Regions from separate parts of the Homo sapiens genome. Here regions 2, 3 and 4 are each linked to region 1. The links come from fine-mapping of genetic effects on gene expression. A gene starts in region 1. Each other region holds a variant in brackets. All regions are shown on one strand. Distances are between the middles of the regions. Region 1 holds the start of TEK (TEK receptor tyrosine kinase). Region 2 has its middle 28 kb from the start of TEK. Region 3 has its middle 36 kb from the start of TEK. Region 4 overlaps TEK (TEK receptor tyrosine kinase).

Region 1 (6,152 bases):
TTTTGATTATTTCTAGGCTTTGATTATTATCAACTATGCTTCTATAATGTCCTTATACACAAATTTGGGGGCACATATTTGATTTTGGCTTGGTGTATATCATAAAAATGGATTTTCTGGTGGGGCGCAGTGGCTTACACCTGTAATCCCAGCACTTTGGGAGGCCAAGGGGGGGGGGGGGTGGATCATGAGGTTAGGAGTTCAAGACCATCCTGGCCAATATGGTGAAACCCCATCTCTACTAAAAAGTATAAAAATTAGCCGGGTGTGGTGGTGCACGCCTGTAATTCCAGCTACTCAGGAGGCTGAGGCAGGAGAATCGCTTGAACCCAGGAGGCGGACGTTGCAGTGAGCCGAGATAGTGCCACTGCACTCCAGCCTGGGCGACAGAGTGAGACTCTATTTCAAAAAAAAAAAAAACTGGATTTTCTGGGCCAAAGGGTATGCATACAAGGCTTTTGCTTTGTGTTTGTGATGTTGACCTCTTGACATGTGATACCAGTGTATAGTAGTATTATGTAAGTTATTTTCCACCTCTTTCAGAAAAACCGTTTTGTTATCTATTGATACCTTTGTTAATTAGTCTCAAAGACTTTTAATGTTGTCTATAGTGTTTTTCATGTATTGAGTGCAAAAAGCAGGAAATAGAAAATGAAGAATCAGCCAAGAGCCTTGTTTGTTTGTTTAGTTTGGTTTGGTTTTCTTTATGCTTTTACTGTAGGTATGTCTGGAAAAATCAAATTAAATGGAATGAGCTTGACTCATGAGGAGGCCCCTTTCATTTTCCTGAAGTGAATTAATACAGCACCCACCGATCCTGACATTAGTTATTTCAGAAGCACACTAAGAACTGACCGCACTTCTCAGTGTCACCAAACTATTCTTATCTGTCAAAGTTTCATTTCAAATACTTCTGTAAGGTCTAGGTGTACCCTGCTGGTGTTTGTGATGTCCTACATTACTCTTGATCTACTTTTCAACTATGAAACAAGGGAAAAATTGGAGGTCCAGAGCTCAGGATTCAGATATTATTACCTCTGCTACTCACAGCAGAGCAAGTAACTTAGCCTGTGTGGAACTTCATTTTTCTTTCTTTTTTTTCTTTTTTTTTTTTTTTTTTTTAGACAGAGTCTTGCTCTGTCACCCAGGCTGGAGTGCAGTGGCACGATCTCGGCTCACTGCAACCTCTGCCTCCCAGGTTCAAACAATTCTCCTGCCTCAGCCTCCAGAGTAGCTGGGGTTACAGGTGCACGCCAGCAAGCACAGCTAAATTTTGTATTTTTAGTAGAGATGGGGTTTTGCCATGTTGGCCAGGCTGGTCTCAAACTCCTGACCTCAGGTGATCCACTCCCAAAGTGCTGGGATTATAGGCGTGAGCCACTGTGCCAGGCCCACTGTTTTTGTTTTTTTTTTTCGTGATGACAAATTTAAAGTCATCTCATAGGAATAGAAAATAGCTTTTTAGTAGAAGCTCTTGGAATTTAAATTGAGACTGAATGGAAAGATGAAAGAAAATAAACTTATTAACATTTAATGAGAACCTTCAAAGAACTAGGCATAGTACCAAATGGTTTTATATTTTTAAACCTCATTTATTCCTCTCAAAACACCTGGGAAGGAGATATTTTTGCCATTTCACAGCTGTTGAAACTGAGGCTCAAAAAGACTAAGTAACTTTTCTCAGCTACACATGTGGCTGAGCCAGTATTTGAACCCAGTTCTGTTTGCAGACAGAACCTGGGCTTTTTCACACCTGCAAACTGGAAACATTAATTGGTTCTTAAGATCATCATCGATGTGATAAAACCTGGGACAGAAATTAGTCAAGACTAGCTGCATCTGCCTTTTCCTCTGGTGGGTAGGAAAAGGAGGAGTATAATGATTTCCTCAGGCATGAAGGTCGATGATGAGCAAAGTGTATACTCTCTAATCTAATGTCATAATTCATATTGTGGAGTAATTATCTGGATAAGTGTAGGGTCTCTGACCTCATTCTAGATATTGTACATTCCATGGCTATTTTCATTTTGGTCCATGAACTCTCTTTGCTCTCATGAGCACCATTTTTATCCCAATCTAATCCTGTATGTTTGTGTTTTTACACAGATTAGTTTTTAAATGTTATATATAATTTGCTTCTGAAACACCATTGCTCAATGACTACCAAATCTTTCTCATTACCAAAATCCTTCTATGCCAACTTCTTCAAGAAATTTGATCACCTTTAGATGAATTGTTAATGAAAATTAAAGCTATAGCCGGCAACATGGGTATCTTTGGGCTAATGGCCAACCAACAGGCCATCTGTGTGAAAGAAAACAGGCTAACAATTTTGGACTCTGGTCTCTTGGGGCTACATTGAGCATTGACCTCACCGGTGCTCACTGAAATTAATTGCTTTTCAGGTTGTATTTTCTCATCACGGAAACCTTCTTCTCCCAATTCAAACCATGTGGGTTAAAATGAGAAAACAAAAGCCAAAACGGCTTCCCACACCCAAAAGCTCCTTCTGTCAGAGATCCCAGTAGCCCCGGGAGAGCTGTTAGAAGTCTGAGAAGGATTGGTCATCATCGCATACCATACATAGGTGGAGGGCTTGTTATTCTCAGTTTCCCGCCTATGAGAGGATACCCCTATTGTTTCTGAAAATGCTGACCGGGACCCACACTTCCAACAAAAATTCCTCTGCCCCTACAGCAGCAGCAAAAGCAGCAGCAGAAGCAACAGCAACAGATAAGTGTTTTGATGAATTGCGAGATGGATAGGGCTTGAGTGCCCCCAGCCCTGCTGATACCAAATGCCTTTAAGATACAGCCTTTCCCATCCTAATCTACAAAGGAAACAGGAAAAAGGAACTTAAAACTCCCTGTGCTCAGACAGAAATGAGACTGTTACAGCCTGCTTCTGTGCTGTTCCTTCTTGCCTCTAACTTGTAAACAAGACGTAGTAGGACGATGCTAATGGAAAGTCACAAACCGCTGGGTTTTTGAAAGGATCCTTGGGACCTCATGCACATTTGTGGAAACTGGATGGAGAGATTTGGGGAAGCATGGACTCTTTAGCCAGCTTAGTTCTCTGTGGAGTCAGCTTGCTCCTTTCTGGTAAGGTTTGGCTTTATTTTTTTTAATTTAGTATTTTAAAAAACAGAGTTAGTGATTTCTGGGTGCTCTCCCCAAATCTCATCAGTGCTGATGAACAAGGGGTGGCTGTAGCAAAGGCACCATTTCTCTGTGAGTCTCCAGTCAATATGTGTGGAAGGATTGAAATGCAAAGGCTCTGTGGCATGAACTGATTTTGCTAGTTTGTCTTCTGGGTGATTGGCCCCTGTGTTAGAAACTCTTTGAGGACCGATTAAATCATCTTATTTGAAGAGATCCCCTTACTATCATGCATTATTTTCCTGCTCCTCATTCTGGAGTGTTTTTCTTATTGATTTTTTTTTTAAAGAACAAACCGGTTTTACCTGCTTTAAAGAAAATCTTCAGTAAAAAATGAAATTCATGCTGAGAAATACAGGGGCCCAATTAAGGCAGTGTATAGATTGTCACTGTTAAAAGGGAACAAAGATGCTTTTCTGTAAAAAGATTTTATATCTACATCCTATTTTAAGCAAAGCAATGAAATTGTAGGCTTTTTTTTTTTTCTTGTAGTTAGGGTCAGGGAGATTGGGGCTATTAGAATTTTTGTTTTATTTTAAAAAATGTTTGCCATGTAGTAATTCATAAAGGGTTTACTGGCCCAATGAAACAAAAATTTAGGCAGTTACCAAAATCTTTAACACAGGAGAGTATATGAAGCCTGTTGTAGAGTGAAGGAGTGGTTGGCCAGTGTGTTGGGTTCAGCGTGTTTATTGCTTAGATACTCCAGATAGTGGTGTGCCTCTGTAGCTCACTCAGCCTATGTGACATAGGTAGAAGGCAGTATCCAAACCTGAACTACATATCACAAATACATTTATCATTGCCATCAGTCTCTCCCCTTCGGTTTGAAAACATTCTAATTTTAATAACGAAAATCGAATTGATATTGGAGATGAATTTGGGAAAATTCACTAAACTTCATGGATATAGGGCATATTAATATAATTTGATTCGAGTATACATAAGTATCTGCTATATTTTCTAGGTGTTTGAACTATTTTATTAAATATTCAAAAAACAAATCCAATGAAATAACTGAGTTGAATACAGTTTGTTTTATAGCTCTCAACAACCAATATTTTGAGAATTTAATAATATTCTTTAAGAATGTGTAACACAAGTTGCTAAAAATTAAAAGATTTTAGGTGGCTTCAGTATTTATGTGGAAATTGTTTAAATAATGTTGACTTCTCCAATAATATGTACTTCAAATAATTATCATGATTCCATTTTTGATTTTTTTTTTTCTGAGTGCCATTATTTACCAGTGACATGAAATCTGGAACTTACTCTATACCAGGGATTATAGTGATGTGAAGCCCAGGTGTCTATAGTTTCTCTGAGGTACTTTGTAGGTTAATACACACACAACTGTTTTCATTCACTTTTTTTACTCCTAAAGCAACTGTGTTATAGCACTTTGCAATACAGGCTTAGAAGAATTGTCATAAAATCAAACAAAAAGGTATGTAGCCAAAATACTTGTTCCATGTCTAGACCTCAGATCCCTGGAAAAAACAGCACTGCCTTTAAAAGGCAGAGGACCAAGGAGAGGAAGTAGGTTCATGTTCTTGTTAGGAAGGGTGACACTAGCAAGGTTAGTTTCTGAGGTAGGTCTGTTGTCTTGATCGTAGCTTGCATTCCTAGTCTAAGCCTCCATGAGCATGACTGCTCAAGGCTTGATAATTGCAACAAGAATCCAGCTAGATAATGTCCACAGCCATAGGAGCCCGTTCCTCTAGTCAAACTCCTGGTAGACTAAAGCAGTGGAGCAAGGGGCTTATGGCTTAAAGGTTTATCTCTCTAGTCCAGTGGGTTGTTTCTTGTTTCTTTTTTCTGAACCCACAGACTGAAAAAAAAAAAAAGCCACTTTTTTTTAGTGAAGGTGGCTCTGGATGACAGAGTTGTTTACCCATAAGAGGGCTGGAGGGGATGTGTAGCTCTCAGAAGCTCCTTACAAATACTCCTAGATTCTGTTGCTTTCCTTTTCTGAATTGAGAATCATTGCTAACTTCAGCTTTCAAACAGGTTCTATTATATTAGCTTTTCCCTACTCTTCCTCATAAAACCAGGCTGTTCTCTTTAAAAAGTTGTATATGTAGAAAACTAACAAAAAAATCACTGTGATTTATCATAGTATCTTCTACGTGATCAACAATGATCTAATAGGAAGTCTCTAGTCTCATGCTTTCATACCTCTTTACTGTGTCACTTGACTTTTTTTTTTTTTTTTTTGAGATGGAGTCTCGCTCTGTCACCCAGACTAGAATGTAGTAGAGTGATCTCAGATCACTGCAACCTCCGCCTCCCAGGTTCACGTGATTCTGTGCCTCAGCCTCTCGAGTAGCTGGGACTACAGGCGTGCGCCACCATGCCTGGCTAATTTGTTGTATTTTTAGTAGAGACGGGGTTTCACCATGTTGGCCAGGCTGGTCTCGAACTCCTGACCCCAAGTGATCCGCCCGCCTCGGCCTCCCAAAGTGCTGGGATTACAGGCATGAGCCACCACGCCCGCCCTTGTCACTTGACATTTTAAATAACAACTGGATTCAGAGATAGCAGACATCTTGTCTGGGGTGGCAGAGGAAACAGTTGTAAGGTCAGGGAAGTGCTCCCAGATGAAACCCCCTTGTTAGGGCTGGTCTCAGAAGGCTAGTGTCAAGTCTGAGTAATCAAGGGTGGAGGTCTGAAAGCTGGGATCGGAGACACCCTTTGGAATTATTCTCAGAGGGAGGAGCTTGCTTTTTTCACAGATGCTCCCTTCCAAGCATTGTCTTTATTGTTTGTTAGGTCTCAGCATTTCCCTTTCAGCCCTGCCCTGGGAGAGCTTCCTGGAAGAGTCTAGTTCTTCCAAGGCGTCTCTCCAGGAGGGAAGGAGTCTTCTAAGTTCATCTCAAAAGACTATGTGATGTTCTCTGGGGAATTTAGGTGGGTGGGCTCTAAATTCTTCTGAAATTATCAGTTTGCCTCCTGAGCCTCTATCTCCCCAAAGGATATCTGTGTGATTGTATC
Region 2 (6,152 bases), 29 kb before region 1:
CTCAGCCTCCCAAGTGGCTGAGACTACAGGCGCCCGCCACCACGCCTGGCTAATTTTTTGTATTTTTAGTAGAGACGGGTTTCACTGTGTTAGCCAGGATGGTCTCAATCTCCTGACCTCATGATCCGCCCGCCTCGGCCTCCAAAAGTGCTGGGATTACAGGTGTGAGCCACTGCGCCTGGCTGGACATATTTTATTAAATAGTAATCTCAATTGGTTTATGAGGAAAATATTATATGTCTGTATATATATAACAAATATATTTTATCGACTAGTAATATTAATTGGTTTATGAGGAAAATATTATATGTCTGTGTATATATATATATATATATATATATATATATCAAATATTTTAGAAACTTTCTTCTGAATGGGGCCTCTGAAAGAATCTGTCCAAATATTTTGTAAATTCAAAAACTGAAAATATCAGAAGGTTTGTAAATTGTGTTTACATTTAATAACTCCAGTATTCAAAAATATTTGTAGCCTGTATTATATGGTATAAATATTTCATATGATGTCATTATTAAAATGTTTTAAATTTATCCGTGTACCTACGTAACTAGTAAACTTTCATTACTGAAGTTGAAAAGCTTCAAATCATAGAGCTGTTCTAAGAAAATCTCTAAACTGAAACATACTTTGAGAAGAGTCAGTACAGAAAATTTCCAACATTTTTCCAGTCTCTCCTTTACTGATCCCACCTCTCCTGTTAAAAAGCAATACATCAAAAAGTCTGTTTGAGTATACCTTTTTATTTAAGATAATATTTACATTGGGAACTAATAAAAGTTTAGATTAAATTACATACAGTTCTCAATACATATTTATTTTAATGACATGACTGATGCTCAAGCAACTTATTAATAGTATGTAAAATGAACTGGATCACACAAATGTACATTAGAGTTTGTTACTTTGTAGGCCCTTTGTGAGGCTCTTCCTGCTCCCTTCCCAGCTACACTCTGGGCTCCCCAGGCCTTCCTCTCAACCTCACAGATCTCTGGCACTAATATCAGCAGAGGAAGGAGTGGAGATGAGGCTAACTAGACTAAAACAATGGGGAAGGGAAGAAGACAGAGCAAGCAAAGTACCTTGTGACCTTAAAATAATGAGCCATGTTTTCCTGCGTGTCTAGTGAACTGTCTCTAAAGACAATTCAAAAAAAGAAACTATAAAAATGTTGAGAATAAAAGCAACATCCTTGTGATTAAAAGCCTGCCCTACCAAGTTTGCTGCTTTGAAGCACAACACACATTTGAATGTAACTGAAAAGAAAATTTCAGCATGTTTAGAAGGTAAGAAATGCCAGGTGAGGTGCAAACCTGCCTTACAACTTGACAATTATTGTTTATAACTTATATTTCAATCTTTTAAAATAGTTGATAAAAGACATAATGTTCTCCCTTCCTCCCATTTATTATCAAGATAATGAGGAACTTCTCAGCTGAGATAGGAATAAATTTTTTTGATTCAGGGTGAAACTCTGCTGAGTGCCTGTAAATTTTCAGAATTTTTCAGTATTTTTGCCGTTGAAGCAACAGTAGTGGATGAGCAAAGAGTGAAAATTTCAATGCAAGTGAAATTTCTAAATGGTGGTGGTAAACCAGAATAGCCATGGAAGACAACATCTTTGCAGGTTCTAGGGATTTGGATGTGAACAGTTCCCCCTTCAAAAAATGTTCACATCCAAATCCCTAGAACCTGCAAATATGTTACCTTCCATGGCAAGACGGACTACAAATGTGATCAACTTAAGGGTCTTGAGATGGAGAGATTATTCTGGATTATCCAGATTGGCAAAATATAATTACAAATATCCTTATAAGAGGGAGACAAGGGGGCCAGAGTCAGAGAGAAGCTATACCAACAGAAGCAGAGGTTGGAGTGATGCTCTTTGAAGATGGAGAAAGGGGGTGTGAGTCAAGAATTGCAGCAGTCTCTAAAAGCTGAAAAAGGCCAGGAAACAGATTTTCCCCTAGAGCCTCTAGATGGATTTTACCCTAAGACACATTTCAGCCTTCTGACTTCCAGAACTGTAAAATAATAAATTTGTGCTGCTTTAAGTCATGGAATGTGTGGTATTTTATCACAGCAGCAATACAAAACTAATACAGCAAGCATTGCAGAGCATGAACACAACATATGCCTCAACCCTCTGCAGTTATTTTTTTTTCACCAGCTATAGTTTTCATCCTTATACTTATCATAATCCCATTGCCAATAACAGGAAGCACTAACGATGTAAAGTTCATCATATGGGTAAAACAAAATATGTTTGTACTATAAAGACAACCTATCAGCAAGTAAAACTTTCCATTTATCAAATTCATTTAACTAAAACTTATTGAATAAAGAAGTGACCACGGCCGGGTGCTGTGGCTCACGCCTGAAATCCCAGCACTTTGGGAGGCCGAGGTGGTGGATCAACTGAGGTCAGGAGTTCAAGACCAGCCTGGCCAACATGGTGAAACCCCGTTTCTACTAAAAATACAAAAATGTGTAAAGCATGATGGCGGATGCCTGTAATTCCAGCTACTTGGAAGGCGGAGGCAGGAGAATCACTTGAATCTGGGAGGTGGAGATTTCAGTGAGCCAAGATCGTGCCATTGCACTCTAGCCTGGGCGACTTAGCAAAACTCCGTCTCAAAAAAAAAAAAAAAAAAAAAAAGACGTGACCAACACCAATAAAAATTCCCACCCAGTTGGAATTTACATTCTAATGGGAGACATGGGCAATAAATATATTACGCAATTTTATGTAAAGATACACTTTCTGTGGAAAGCGCAAATACTAGCTGATTCTGGAAAA[G/C]TAAATCAAGTGTCCCTTCATAAACCCAACTTCCAGGTTCATGAACCCTTTACTAACTGTAAAATGTTTTTTCCTCAGGTATTCAAGTGAAACCTCCAGGGATTCCTCAAGGCCTGCCATTTCATTTCACATCAATTTTCTCAAATTTTATGGGATAATCACTGTGAAAAAAACATTTTAAATGGTCCATTTTCAAGGCATGATAAATCTAACTACTGGCAGCCAGCCTAAGGATGTAAAAAACCACACAGCTTGTGCACCTGGAAAGTCACGATAAGCGAACAGACTGTAAAGGAGAGGTCAGCCCATAAAAGGGAAGAAAGTTTCATTATTGGGAAATCAAACTTAAGCTGGGAAGGCGATGGGAGGGTATAACCTTATAAGGGGGGTAATAAAACTTAGGCTTTGTCTGGAAAGATTGTAACCCGATAGTACTCGACCAGTGAGGAACTGGGGCAGGGACTTGCATGCTAGGAGATAAATTACATGCTGATTTATCATTAGGAGATAAATTAGGAGATTGGGTGTGCCTGCCTACCAGACACCCAATCTTGCAAGACCACCATGCAAAGTCTTGCTTCCACTGTTCTTTGTGTCTCCAAGTCCATTCTTTGAGTTTGGATGGGTGAATGTGTTTCTCACAATCACTTTCTAAAGAAGGCATAAATGAATATTACTGCCATTCTCCAGCCTCTGTCCCTATTATCCACCTCTAGCCTACATGTCATGTTCTGGCCAAACAGAAAAGAAGGTTGAACTCCAGGGAATAAAAAAGCATGGTTAACTAGAAATACGACCAGTAATACCCAAGCCCTGTTAGTATGTTCCCTTTGCATTATTTGTGGATAAAGCACTTTTCAACAAGATGTGGAAGTATAATATTCTTACATTTATGCCTGAAGTTATTAACCAGTAATTGTTCCAAGTGACTTTTTTTGAATGACATTTAATGGGACTATACAGATAATTTCATACTATCCATGTTTTTACCCAACTGAGGAACTATTTACAAGATCAGACTGCAAACAGAAAATAAATCTGTGTACAAAAAAATGATTTAGAATTCAGAGATATCCTTCATTCCTTTCTCTCCTTACCCCTTACATTCCGTTCATCAGTATCTTCTAAAATTTTACCTACAGAAAATCACTTGATCAGTCAATTTTTTTCCATTTCATTATTATAATGCTAATCCAAGCCACCATCATGTTATACTTGGACCTGAATTGATCTCTCGCCTCTCTGCAATCCATTCTTCAAGAGCAGTCACAGTAATACTTTTGATTTTATTAAAGAATATTGAAAGTTCAGTAAATATAAATAATTTTACAACAAACATCAGTGTTTTCACTACCTAGAGTTTACAAATTGTTAATAATTTGTGTTTACATATGAGTGGTATTACAAATATGGTAACAGAAATGGACATTACAAATACGGTGATGTCCTTTTTGTTCTCTTCCTCATTCCCATAGTCTAGAATTAGTCACCACCTTAAATTTGGTGTTTATCCTTCCAGGCTGTTTTTATACTTTTATTCTATATATGTGTTTACAAGCAAAATATGGAATGGTTTTATATCCTTAAAAATTACATAAATGGTATCATTCTCTACTTTCTTTATTCCATTGAACATTACTTAATTGAAGGCTATCCCTGTTGATTCTTATAGATCCTGTTTTTCCATTTTAATTGCTGTGTATTGTATTCCACTGTGTGAATACATCATTATTATTTCAATTGTCTTACAGATTGATGTTTAGTTGCTTTACGTTTTTCTCTACTACAATGCCCCAGTGAGCTCACTGGTGACTTTTTGTGCACATGTATACAGCTTTCATTACCTAGATATAGAATTGCAAGATAAGGAATGCACATTTTCAATTAGATCTTCCCAAAGAGGTTGTGCTGACTTACACTCTCACCAGTTATGAATCCTGGATTCAGTATTTTCAAACTTTAAATTTTTTTCTAATTGTTGCTTTAATGGGATTTCTGTGATGACTAATGAGATCATATGACAATTGGACATTCTTTTATGAATTATCTTCTTCATATCTATTGCCCATTTTCTATTGTATTGTTTGTCTTTTAGAAGTTTTATGTTGCAAATATCTTCTCTTAGTCTAAGCCTTATCTTTTCACTTTATAGAAATTTAAAGGGATTTTTGCAATTACTTTTAATGGCAAAAACAACAATTACTTTTGCACCAACCGAAAATAAGATATTATTTGTTATTTGAAATTTTTAATCAAAGGGACATTTAAAAACAAATTAGATAATAGTACTAAGTTTTTGTTAAAATTAAACAGTAACCAGCCGGGCGCGGTGGCTCACGCCTGTAATCCCGGCACTTTGGGAGGCTGAGGTGGGTGGACCACAAGGTCAGGAGATCGAGACCATCCTGGCTAATACGGTGAAACGCCGTCTCTACTAAAAATCCAAAAAATTAGCCAGGCGAGGTGGCGAGCGCCTGTAGTCCCAGCTACTCGGGAGGCTGAAGCAGGAGAATGGCGTGAACCCGGGAGGCAGAGCTTGCAGTGAGCCTAGATCGTGCCACTGCACTCCAGTCTGGGTGACAGAGTGAGACTCCTCCATCTCAAAAAAAAAAAAAAAAATTAAACAATAACCTTACTATAAATCGTGTATAGTTTGTAGTATATCGTGGAATATAATGGAGGATGAACCTATCATTCCCAACAGTCCCTAGAATAATGCTTTGCATGTAGCGGGTATTCAACAAATATTTGTTGGATAAATGAATGATTATTTTTGTTACTGTGATAAAATTCTAACTTAAGAAACTTATACCCTGTATTGGATAGTCAAGATTCTGATTCTGAGAGTGATCAAAGCAGAGAAGTAGCACATATCATAGAGTTTTTCTTAATGGGGTTTCCTTCTTTCTAAATATACTGCACATCCTATGAGTCCCACAGTCAGGCTTACCTCAGCTAAGAGGATTGAGATATCACACAACAACCTTTGCAGGAGAAGAAAAGGTTACAAAACAGAGCAAATCTGGGTTTCAGAACAAAGGGAGTGCATGTAGAATAGTGGCTAATAGCATGGATTGTGGAGTCAGCCCAACTGGGCTTTAACCCTGGGTCTTCTACTTGTTAGCCGGATAAACTTAGATCACCTACCTTGTCTAATTCTCAATTTCAACAAATACAAAATAAGAAAAATTATGTCTCTCTCATAGCAAACCATTGGGATTAAATGACCTAATGTATTAAAGCCTCTTCACAGTACCCAACACCAAAGTGTTCAAAAATGGTAGCAGTTAGTATTATTAAATGGAAGTTATTATACATTCTCAGATATTATATAATG
Region 3 (6,152 bases), 36 kb before region 1:
GGAGGACTTTGAGCAAGTCATTCAGTTTCCCTGAGTCTATTTCCAGGGTTATGATGGGACCCCATGGCTATTGGAATCATCTCAAAGATCCCTATTTCTCAGGCTAATCTCAAATTGTGATAGTGACTTTGTGATTGGGATAACTATGTAATGAAAATTTGATCAGACTACTTATTTTCCATAGGCTTCTATTTTGTCACTAGCTGTAGAGAATTAGGGTTTTCTATATATAAATCATGTCATCAGTAAACAGAGACACTTCTTGAATTTCTTCTTTTTCTATATGGATGCCTTTTTATTTTTATTTTTATTTTGCCTAATTACTCTGGCTAGGACTTCCAGTACTGTGTTGAACAGAAGTGATGAGAGTGAGCATCCTTGTTTTGTTCCTGATCTCTTAGAGGAAAAGCTTTTCACCATTGAGTTTAACGTTAGCTGTGGGAAAAGGGAGCTTTTTGAAGCTTATTAAAAAACAGTCCAGGTTTCGGTTCTCTGGCGATGGATGGTTGGATGGATATATATAAAATATAGACACATATATATGAATATATGGATGGCTATATATGATATATATATCATATATATCATATATATATATATATGGAGAGAGAGAGAAAAAGAGGGAGATGACCACATTTATTGGTGAAAACCAACCAACTTGCCCTTCTGTAAACATAATTCAGCAAGAGTTATTTGTGGAGTACCGGAATTGGTGAGAATTTCGATAGCTTTTCTGTTATAACGCTTTTGCCAACTGCAGCAATTGATTCAGGTTTTTCTCGTCTTTTACTGTCATCGAGGGAAAATCTGTTGAGATTCATCATTTAAGCTCCCATATGTTAAGCCTCTTTCCCAGGATCAATGATTTGCTTTTTTCTAGACAAACGTTTTGTTTTGTTTTGTTTTTTAGATAAAATGACCATTGCTTCTCTAAAGGAAGTATGCAAAGAAAAGTAAAATGAGGCTGGGTGCGGTGGCTCGCGCCTGTAATCCCAACACTTTGGGAGGCCAAGGCAGGTGGATCACGAGGTCAAGAGATCAAAACCATCCTGGCCAACATGGTGAAACGCCATCTCTACTAAAAATTAAAAAAATTAGCTGGGCGTCGTGGTGCACACCTGTAGTCTCAGCTACTCTGGAGCCTGAGGCAGGACAATCGCTTGAACCCGGGAGGCGGAGGTTGCATTGAGCCGAGATCATGCCACCGCACTCCAGCCTGGCAACAGAGCGAGACTGCATCTCAAAAAAGAAAAAAAAAGTAAAATTGAAGGCATTGTAATTTAATCTAGCTATAGACTTAGAGCACCTGTACAACTTCTATAGTTGTCAGTCATTTAAATCTCTGTGTGCTGCCTTTGGAACATGGGGGACATAATGATCTACTCTTATAGAATAAGATGCTGATTAAATAGATAATGCTTTTAAAATATTTTGAATTAAAGATATTTTAATGTGTAAGTATACTGCAACTCATTTAAACAAATCTACTTGGTAGTGAAGCTATCTGATTGTACGGGAAAAAATATTGCCCTTATGATTTAGAACAGTGCGTGCAATATGAGCTACAAATGTGAGCCAAATATGTAATTTTTATTTTTCGAGATGGAGTCTCACTCTGTCACCCAGGCTGGAGTGCAATGGCACGATCTTGGCTCACTGCAACCTCCACCTCCCAGGTTCAAGTGATTCTCCTGCCTCAGCCTCTCATGTAGCTGGGATTACAGGTGAGTGCCACCACGCCCAGGTAATTTTTTGTATTTTTAGTAGAGATGGAGTTTTGCCATGTTGGCCAGACTTGAGCTCCTGACCTCAAGTGATCTGCCCACCTTGCCTTCCCAAAGTGCTGGGATTACAGGAGTGAGCCACCATGTCCAGCCCAAATCTGTAAATTTTAAACTTTAAACTTTGGACTGTGGACTTTTCAGTTAATGCTGAAATGAGTTAAGACTCTGGGGGACTGTTGCGAAGGCATGATTAGTTTTGAAATATAAGGACATGAGATTTGGGAGGGGCCGGGGCAGAATGATATGGTTTGGCTCTGTGTCCCCACCGAAATCTTGTCTTGAATTATACTCCCATAATTCCCATGAGTTATGGGAGGGACCCAGTGGGAGGTAAAATTGAATCGTGGGGGTAGTTTCCCGCATACTGTTCTCATGGTAGTAAGTAAGTCTCACCAGATCTGATGGTTTTCTAAGGGGTTTTTGCTTTCACTTCTTCCTCTCTCTTGACTGCCACCATGTGAGATGCCTTTCACCTTCCACCATGATTGTGAGGCCTCCCCAGACATGTGGAACTGTGAGTCCATTACACCTCTTTTTTTTTTTTTTTTTTTTTTTTTTTTGAGACGGAGTCTCGCTGTTTCGCCCAGGCTGGACTGGAGTGGCTCTATCTCGGCTCACTGCAAGCTCCGCCTCCTGGGTTCGCGCCATTCTCCTGCCTCAGTCTCCCGAGTAGCTGGGACTACAGGCGCCTGCCACTGCGCCTGGCTAATTTTTTGTATTTTTAGTAGAAACGGGGTTTCACCATGTTAGCCAGGATGGTCTTGATCTCCTGACCTCGTGATCCGCCCACCTTGGCCTCCCAAAGTGCTGGGATTACAGGCGTGAGCCACCACGCCTGGCCTAAACCTCTTTTTTTGTAAATTGCTCAGTCTCGGGTATGTCTTTATTAGCAGCATGAAAATGGACTAGTACAGCTGGATATGAAATTCTTGGTTGAAATTTTTTTTCTTTAAGAATGTTGAAAATAGTCTCCCTGTCTCTTCTGGCTTGTAGGGTTTCAGCTGAGAGGTCTGCTGTTAGCCTGATGGGAATCAGTTTGTAGGTGACCGGCCCTTTCTCTCCAGTTGCCTTTAATATTTTTTCTTTCATTTCGACCATGGAAAATCTGACAATTATGTCAGATTTTCCTGGGGGATGATTTTCTTGTGTAGAATCTTGCAGGAGTTCTCTGTATTTCCTGAATTTGACTGTTGGCCTCTGTAGCAACGTTGAGGAAGTTTTCATGGATGATATCCTGAAATATATTTTCCAAGTTGTTTGCTTTCTCCCCCTGCCTTTCAGGGATGCCAGTGATTCATAGATTTGGCCTATTTACATAATCCCATACCTCTCAGGGGTTTTGTTCTTTCTTTTTTTTCCTTGTTTTTGTCCGACTGTCTTATTTCAGAGAACCGATCTTCAAGTTTGGAGATTCTTTCCTTAGCTTGGTGTATTCTGCTGTTTGTAGTTGTGATTGCATTGCAAAATTCTTGTGTTATTAAGCTCTGTCAGACCCATTATGTTCTTTTTTGTACCAACTATTTTGTCCTTCAGCTCCTGTATCACTTTATTGTGATGCTTATTTTCCTTGGATTGGGTTTTGCCATCCTCCTGAATCTCAGTGATCTTTGTTCCTGTCCATATTCTGAATTCTATTTCTGTCATTTCAGCCAGTTCGGCCTGGTTAAGAACTCTTGGAGAACTGGTTTGGTCATTAGTAGAATATGTGACACCCTGGCCATTTGAGTCACTGGAGTTCTTGTATTGGTTCTTTCTCACCTCTGTGCGTGGGTGTT[A/C]CTTTAACTGCAGTGTAGATAGAGTATAACCAATAGACTTCTTTTCTGGATGTTTTCACAGGGCTGAGGCTTTGTGTAGCTATGCTTTTTATTTGAAGCTGACTTCTTATCTTTGGTTTCAGAGGGAAATATGTTAATAAGGTATTTTTGGTATTGAAACTTTGGGGTGTGATCCAGTAGGTGACACTTAGGCTTATTGGTCAGTTGGTTGACGCTTGCCCAATTGTGTGGATTCCCTGTGTTTCCTCACAGTTGCAGCTGTGTTCCCTTTCAATGCTCTGAAAGTGTGAGTTCCACTCCCCCTTGAATGCTGGCTGTAGTTCACAACTTGGCACTCCTGGGCTGCCCACTGCCAGTCTGGGGTGATCTCAGTGTTTATGTTCCTTCCCCAGCTTAGAGGCAGAAGAGGAAGAGATTTTAGTAGTGGTTGTGCCAGGGGTCATTTGCTTGACTCATGGGGGCTCCACCCCAGAGGGATATAGGTCAGCAATCATTCAGTGCAATCAGCCCAACATGGAGGGTTTGTACAGGGCCCAAGCCAGGTGTTCCCTGTCTGGTGATGAGCTGTGGGGCATGTGTGGGACCCATGGGAGCAGACTAGTCTCTGCTCCTTGGGTCAACTGCAGCTTGTTGGAGGTGTGGATAAGGCACTTAGGGTCTTTGTTCCTTCATTAGTCCAACGGTGGCAAGGGCAGTTCCACTGCAGAGGCAGTGGCAGAGAGGCTTTCAGTTGCCCTGGAGGCTCTGTCCATGGAGTTGCTGAGTTGGTACTGGTTTGATAGCTGTGGCAGGGGATGGCTGGAGGCCCAGGCCTGGTGGACCTGCCTGATGAGGACGTATGGGAATGGGCACCTACATAACAGTCCGGCCACTTTCTGTAGGGCTTCTGCAGTATGCTTGGGGCCTACTCCAGTCCCTAGTCACCTCAGATTTTCCAGAACCTGTGGGTCTCACCAGCGAAGCCTGCAAAACAGCAAAGATGGCAGCCTGTCCTCTCTGGGAGCTTTGTCCCAGATAGATACAGACCTCCTGTCAGCCCAAAGGCACCTGTAGGAAGTGGCTGGAGACCCTGATTGGGAGGTCTTGTCCAGGGAGGAGGAACAGGATCAGGACCTGCTTAAAAAAGCAGTCTGGCCACATTTTGGTAGAGCAGTCATGCTGTCCTGGGGGTTCATTGCAGCCCCCAGTCACCTCAGACACTTCAAAGCCCAAAGGCTGGAATGGCTAAGTTGCCCAAACAGCAAAGATGGTGGCTTGCTGATGTGGTTTGGTTGTGTCCCCACCCACATCTCATCTTGAATTCCCATGTGTTGTGGGAAGGACCTGGTGGGAGGTAATTGAATCACAGGAGCAAATCTTTCCTGTGCTTTTCTTGTCATAGTGAATAAGTCTCACAAGATCTGATGGTTTTAAAAAGAGGCTTTCTCCTGCACAAGCTCTCTCATTTTTTGCCTTCTGCTATCCACGTAAGATGTGACTTGCTCTTCCTTGCCTTCCACCATGACTGTGAGGCTTCCCCAGCCACATGGAACTGTAAGTCCAATTTAACCTCTTTCTTTTGTAAATTGCTCAGTCTTGGGTATGTCTTTATCAGCAGTGTGAAAATGGACTAATACACTTGCCCCACCCTCTGGGAGTGCTGTGCCAGGGGGATTCAGATCTCTGTCAGCTAGAAAGCTTGGGTCGGGGGTAGCTAGAGGCCCCTGCTGGGAGGTCCTGCCCAGCGGGGAGGAACGGGATTGGCCACCCAGTTAAAGCAGCAGTCTGTCCGTATTTTGGTAGAGCAGCTGTGCTGTGCTGGGGGATCCCCTTCTGCCCCGGGTTGGCTCAGACACTCCAAAGCCTGAAGGCTAGAACAGCTAAAGTGCCTGAACAGCAAAGATGGTGGCCCACCCCTCCCCCTGGAAACTCCTTCTTAGGGGGGTGCAATGCTGCTAGTGGCAGCTGGCTGCAATTCCAAGCCAACAGGTCTTATCTTGTGAGGTGCCATGAAAATGAGGCCTGCGGCCTGCCGCTGCTCAGCCCCCTGGATTCAGCCTCTTTCCTAGGGGTATGTACAATAGTCTAACCTCCCTCTTTGCCAGAGCTGCAGCTACTTTTGCCAGAAAGCTCAAGTATCTAAGCCTCCAGGGTCTCCACACGTGCCTTAGTGGCTGCTCTGCCAAGGTTCCATGTAGCTCTGTCTGTCAGACTGAAGACAGAAGGCCCTGGTGGAGTGGGTTCACAAGGAGATCTGACTGACCCAAGGGTTGCAAAGATCTGTGGGAGAAGCATGGTCTCCCAGGGTTGCTCATTCACTTACCACTTCCCTGGACAGAGGATACCCTGTCTTCATGTTGCTCCCAGGTGGCCATTATCCTGTCTTGCTTTTCTTCATTCTCTGTGGGTTGAGTTGTTCCCCTGATTAATGCCAATACGAGTACCTGGATGTTTCAGTTGAAGGTGTTGTATTTACTAGCCCTTTCTGTTCCTCTCCGTGAGAGCCATGTATACTAGCTGCTTCTAGCCAGCCATCTTGCCAACTGCCCCTACATTCTTCTTTCATTCTAAGTCTTTGAGATCTGATGTGTATTTTACACCTGCAGCACATTTC
Region 4 (6,152 bases), 120 kb after region 1:
ACACATACATCCTCCTATGTTTAAACCAGGAAGAAGTCGAATCCCAGTCGAAGACCAGTAACAAGTTCTGAAATTGAGGCAGAATTAATAGCTTACCTACCAAAAAAAGTCCAGGACCAGACGGATCCACAGCTGAATTCTACCACAGGTACAAAGAGGAGCTGGTACCATTCCTTCTGCAACTATTCCAAACAATAGAAAAAGAGGGATCTTTCCTAACTCATTTTATGAGGTCAGCATCATCCTGTTACCCAAACCTGGCAGAGACACAACAAAAAAGAAAACTTCAGGCCAATATCCCTGATGAACATTGATGCGAAAATTCTCAATAAAATACTGGGAAACAGAATCCAGCAGCACATCAAAAAGCTTATCCACCATGATCAAGTCTGCTTCATCCTTGGGATGCAAGGCTGGTTCAACATATGCAAATCAATAAACATAATCCATCATCTAAACAGAACCAATGAAAAAAACCACATGTATCTCAATAGATGGAGAAAAGCCTTCAAGGAAATTCAACACCCCCTCAGGCTAAACACGCTCAGTAAACTAGGTATTGATGGAACGTATCTCAAAATATTAAGAGCTGTTTATGACAAACCCACAGCCAGTATCACACTGAATGGACAAAAGCTGGAAGCATTCCCTTTGAAAACCGGCATAAGACAAGGATGCCCTCTCTCGCCCCTCCTGTTCAACGTAGGATTGAAAGTTCTGGCCAGGGCAGTCAGGCAAGAGAAAGAAAGAAAGGGCATTCAAATAGGAAGAGAGGAAGTCAAACTGTCTCTGTCTGCAGATGACATGATTGTATTTCTAGAAAACCCCATTGTCTCAGCCCAAAATCTCTTTAAGCTGATAAGCAACTTCAGCAAAGTCTCAGGATACAAAATCAGTGTGCAAAAATCACAAGCATTCCTATACACCAATAGCAGACAAACAGAGAGCCAAACCATGAGTGAACTCTCATTCACAACTGCTACAAAGAGAATAAAATATCTAGGAATCCAACTTACAAGGGATGTGAAGGACCTCTTCAAGGAGAACTACAAACCACTGCTCAAGGAAATAAGAGAGGACACAAACAAATGGAAAAACATTCCATGCTCATGGACAGGAAGAATCAATATTGTGAAAATGGCCACACTGCCCAGTGTTATCCCCATCAAGCTACCATTGACTTTCTTCACAGAATTAGATAAAACTGCTTTAAATTTCATATGGAACCAAAAAAGAGCCTGCATAGCCAAGACAATCCTAAGCAAAAAGAACAAAACTGGAGGCATCAAGCTACCTGACTTCAAACTATACTACAAGGCTACAATAACCAAAACAGGATGGTACTGGTACTAAAACAGATATATAGACCAAAGGAACAAGACAGAGGCCTCAGGAATAACACCACACATCTACAACCATCTCATCTTTGACAAACCTGACAAAAACAAGCAATGGGGAAAGGATTCCCTATTTAATAAATGGCGTTGGGAAAACTGGCTAGCCATATGCAGAAAACTGAAATTGGACCCCTTCCTTACACCTTATAAAAAATTAACTCGAGATGGATTAAAGACAAACGTAAAATCTAAAACCATAAAAACCCTAGAAGAAAACCTGGGCAATACCATTCAGGACATAGGCATGGGCAAAGACTTCATGACTAAAACACCAAAAGCGATGGCAACAAAAGCCAAAATTGACAAATGGGATCTAATTAAACTAAAGACCTTCTGCACAGCAAAAGAAACCACCATCAGAGTGAACAGGCAACCTACAGAATGGGAGAAAATTTTTGCAATCTATCCTTCTGACAAAGGGCTAATATCCAGAATCTACAAAGCACTTCAACAAATTTACAAGAAAAAAACAACCCCATCAAAAAGTGGGCAAAGGATATGGACAGACACTTCTCAAAAGAAGATATTTATGCAGACAACAAACATGAAAAAAGCTCATCATCACTGGTCATTAGAGAAATGCATATCAAAACCACAATGAGATGCCATTTCACACCAGTTAGAATAGCAATCATTAAAAAGTCAGGAAATGACAGATGCTGGAGAGGATGTGGAGAAATAGGAATGCTTTTACACTGTTGGTGGGAGTGTAAATTAGCTCAACCATTGTGGAAGTCAGTGTGGCGATTCCTCAGGGATCTAGAATTAGAAATACCATTTGACCCAGCCATCCCATTACTGGGAATATACCCACAGGATTATAAATCATTCTACTATAAAGACACATGCACACGTATGTTTATTGCAGCACTGTTCACAATAGCAAAGACTTGGAACCAACCCAAATGCCCATCAATGATAAACTGGATAAAGAAAACGTGGCACATATACACCATGGAATACTATGCAGCCATAAGAAAGGATGAGTTCTTGTCCTTTGGACGGACATGGATGAAGCTGGAAACCAACATTCTCAGGAAACTAGCACAAGAACAGAAGACCAAACATTGCATGTTCTCACTCATAAGTTGGAGTTTAAGGATGAGAACACATGGACACAGGGAGGGGAATATCACACGCCTATCGGGGGGTGGGGGCTAGGGGAGGGATAGCATTAGGAGAAATACCTAATGTAGATGACAGGTTGATGGGTGCAGCAAACCACCATGGCACTTGTATACATATGTAACAAACCTGCATGTTCTCCACATGTATCCCAGAACTGAAAGTATAATAATAAAAAAATAAAGATACATTTTCTTGCCTAGAACCTTGCTTCTGCTAAGATTACTTTCAAAAGTAAGATTTATTC[C/G]AAGGGTAAGAATAATGAACTGTAGTGATACCAGCATTCCCAGAACTATCCGTGGTAGAAGCTAACTGGCATGTTTGAAGACTGCAAGGCTCTAGGTTGAGCAGATAATTTATTGTCTAAATGGAGCTACTTCTAAGAGTGAAGGAGGGTGTTAATCTCACTGGAGCAAGAAGCATACATACCATCCTGGAAAAACCTGGACATAGTTGACCATCACTAGACAGTCCCTAAAATTCCACCTTTTGAGATTCACTTCATAAGGGGTGAGAAGATTTTTTAGTCTTTAAGAAACTTATGTTAAAGTGTAAGCTGTTCTGGGATCTGTGACACCCTAAGCCAATGGTTGATAGCCTTCCATGCACATAAGGTTCCCCAGAGTCATTTGTTCAGCATGTGGGCTCTTGGTCCCCACTGTCAGTCATTGATTCTGTAAGTTTAGGGCAGGTTCCAGAATTCTGCATTTTAATAACAGAGTAGTTCTGAGCACAACTGAGTAAGCACTGTCTTAGGTCAGTGTTTCCCAAACTATGTTTTCACGTGTTGTGCAAGATATAAATACATGATGCAAGGGGAAAGGAGTTCTGCGGTCAATTACTTTGGAAACTTTGTGTTAAACCTGTTGTCTTAGTCATTTCCGGCTGCTGTAACAACATACCATAAACATGGTGGCTTATAAACAACAGAGATGTATTTCTCACAGTTCTGAAGGCTGGGAAATCCAAGATCAAAGCGCTAGCAGATTTGGTGGCCATGAGCCATTTCCTAGCTCATAGATGGCCATCTTTCTGCTGTGTCCTCACGTGGCACTAGGGGCAAAAGAGCTCTTTGAGGCCTTTTGTGTAAGAGCACGAATCCCATTCATGAGGGTTCTACCCTCATGACCTGATCACCTCCCAAAGGACCTACCTTCAAACACCATCACATGGTTTCAACACATGATTTTTGGGTGGCATGAACATTCAGTCCATAGCACCTGGTTAAACAGGCATTTTTTTGTTTTTAATGACAGTGCTTCTAAAAGTCCTGCCTCTTAAAGGGACTTTATGTGGGTGGCATTTTACAAGTTTGAGCATGGGCCCTTTAAGAGACACTAACATTTTGAAATATGCAGCATTCCAAGGCAAATGCTGCTCTAGACACATACCCAGTTCTTTCTAGATGATTGCAATAGCTGAGACCAAGGTCCTGCAGAAACAGTACCGAGGGTAGGAACTAAATCTATGAGGAGTTGAAATGAGACTGGCTTAGGGAGGTGGGAGTCCTCATAGAAACTTCCTAGGGGCTGTACTTTGGTTAAGCTTCATAACCATGCATTGGGTGGCTTCATTCTCTCCTCTCTTTTCCTGCCGTGCCTAGGACTGAAGCACAGTTATAGAATTAACCCTTTAATTCTTTGCTTTCGAAGGTATGATCTAATGAGACAATGCTGGCGGGAGAAGCCTTATGAGAGGCCATCATTTGCCCAGATATTGGTGTCCTTAAACAGAATGTTAGAGGAGCGAAAGGTAAGTATTAAAGTCAGGCAGGAGATCTTTAATTGGAATACCTGATGTGCCCAGGGTGGTTCATAAAAAACATTGAAATAATTGAAGAAGTTCTTCTTGGCATGGCCCTAAGTATTATAGAAACAAAGGATGTCCCTCCACCCCCGCGACTTTGAAGAAGTTACAATTTTGGGGGGAAATAAGATTTCTATACAAGATACAGTCACGTACACACTAGAATAACATACAGAATTAGCCTATTAGAGTTGGAAGGAATTTTCGTCATATAGCCTGACCCTTTAATTTTATAGATGAAGAAACAGACTCAGAAGTGGGTGACTTGACCAAGGACACACAGCAAGTAGACAACAGAGCCTGACCTGCAGGTTACTATAATGAGGGTCAGGAACTCCATAAAAATTTCTAGAAGTAAGTTGGCTGTACCGATCTGGGAGTCAAAATAAAAGTAAACACAGTTTAAAGAAATAGTCATCAAAACCCAAGTGGTAATTCAACTAGAGATGCAGGTGAGATCACACAGATGTGAAAATGAGATTCAGACAGAGGAAGGAACCCAGAAGAAGGAACCCTAGGGAAGCTGAACACATTAGGAGGTACCAATAAGACACTGTGAGAAAGGCAAGCTCAGAAACTGAGGATACAGTATGAAATCTTACTTGCAGAACGCAAGGGGATGCATTTTAGGAAGAAAGTCATCAAATACAACAGAGGGACTGAGGACAGAAAAGTATCCCCCAAGTGCTTAGTATATGAGTTGCAACAAACTAAGAAAACCAAGGTATTGCTGTAACTGCCGCTGGCAGAGGTGGAATCAAAGCAGCCTATGTCTCTGAACCATTTTCATTCTTCCAGACCTACGTGAATACCACGCTTTATGAGAAGTTTACTTATGCAGGAATTGACTGTTCTGCTGAAGAAGCGGCCTAGGACAGAACATCTGTATACCCTCTGTTTCCCTTTCACTGGCATGGGAGACCCTTGACACCTGCTGAGAAAACATGCCTCTGCCAAAGGATGTGATATATAAGTGTACATATGTGCTGTACACCTGGGACCTTCACCACTGTAGATCCCATGCATGGATCTATGTAGTATGCTCTGACTCTAATAGGACTGTATATACTGTTTTAAGAATGGGCTGAAATCAGAATGCCTGTTTGTGGTTTCATATGCAATAATATATTTTTTTAAAAATGTGGACTTCATAGGAAGGCGTGAGTACAATTAGTATAATGCATAACTCATTGTTGTCCTAGATATTTTGATATTTACCTTTATGTTGAATGCTATTAAATGTTTTCCTGTGTCAAAGTAAAATATTGTTAATAAACCTAACAATGACCCTGATAGTACAGGTTAAGTGAGAGAACTATATGAATTCTAACAAGTCATAGGTTAATATTTAAGACACTGAAAAATCTAAGTGATATAAATCAGATTCTTCTCTCTCAATTTTATCCCTCACCTGTAGCAGCCAGTCCCGTTTCATTTAGTCATGTGACCACTCTGTCTTGTGTTTCCACAGCCTGCAAGTCAGTCCAGGATGCTAACATCTAAAAATAGACTTAAATCTCATTGCTTACAAGCCTAAGAATCTTTAGAGAAGTATACATAAGTTTAGGATAAAATAATGGGATTTTCTTTTCTTTTCTCTGGTAATATTGACTTGTATATTTTAAGAAATAACAGAAAGCCTGGGTGACATTTGGGAGACATGTGACATTTATATATTGAATTAATATCCCTACATGTATTGCACATTGTAAAAAGTTTTAGTTTTGATGAGTTGTGAGTTTACCTTGTATACTGTAGGCACACTTTGCACTGATATATCATGAGTGAATAAATGTCTTGCCTACTCACGTCTCATCCAGGAGT

What was found. PIP is the estimated chance that this variant, and not a neighbour inherited with it, causes the effect. A credible set is the group of variants that fine-mapping cannot tell apart.
Region 2: its variant is the best candidate, but not a certain one, in a credible set for the expression of TEK in whole blood (TOPMed, PIP 0.71).
Region 3: its variant is the best candidate, but not a certain one, in a credible set for the expression of TEK in whole blood (TOPMed, PIP 0.82).
Region 4: its variant is the best candidate, but not a certain one, in a credible set for the expression of TEK in whole blood (INTERVAL, PIP 0.68).

The regions. Positions count from the first base shown.
Region 1 is chr9:27,106,542-27,112,693 of GRCh38, forward strand. It overlaps TEK (TEK receptor tyrosine kinase), which reads left to right and starts at 2,684. Exons shown (of 23, transcript NM_000459.5): 1 at 2,684-3,101. The coding sequence starts at 3,050.
Region 2 is chr9:27,077,876-27,084,027 of GRCh38, forward strand. No RefSeq gene overlaps it. Among named protein-coding and RNA genes, the nearest start is that of TEK, 28 kb to the right of the region's middle. RefSeq lists a silencer at 2,983-3,183. The variant G/C (reference allele first, on the strand shown) is at 2,816.
Region 3 is chr9:27,070,463-27,076,614 of GRCh38, forward strand. No RefSeq gene overlaps it. Among named protein-coding and RNA genes, the nearest start is that of TEK, 36 kb to the right of the region's middle. The variant A/C (reference allele first, on the strand shown) is at 3,560.
Region 4 is chr9:27,224,032-27,230,183 of GRCh38, forward strand. TEK (TEK receptor tyrosine kinase) reads left to right here. Exons shown (of 23, transcript NM_000459.5): 22 at 4,175-4,274; 23 at 5,127-6,143. The coding sequence ends at 5,201. Among named protein-coding and RNA genes, the nearest start is that of EQTN, 70 kb to the right of the region's middle. The variant C/G (reference allele first, on the strand shown) is at 2,770.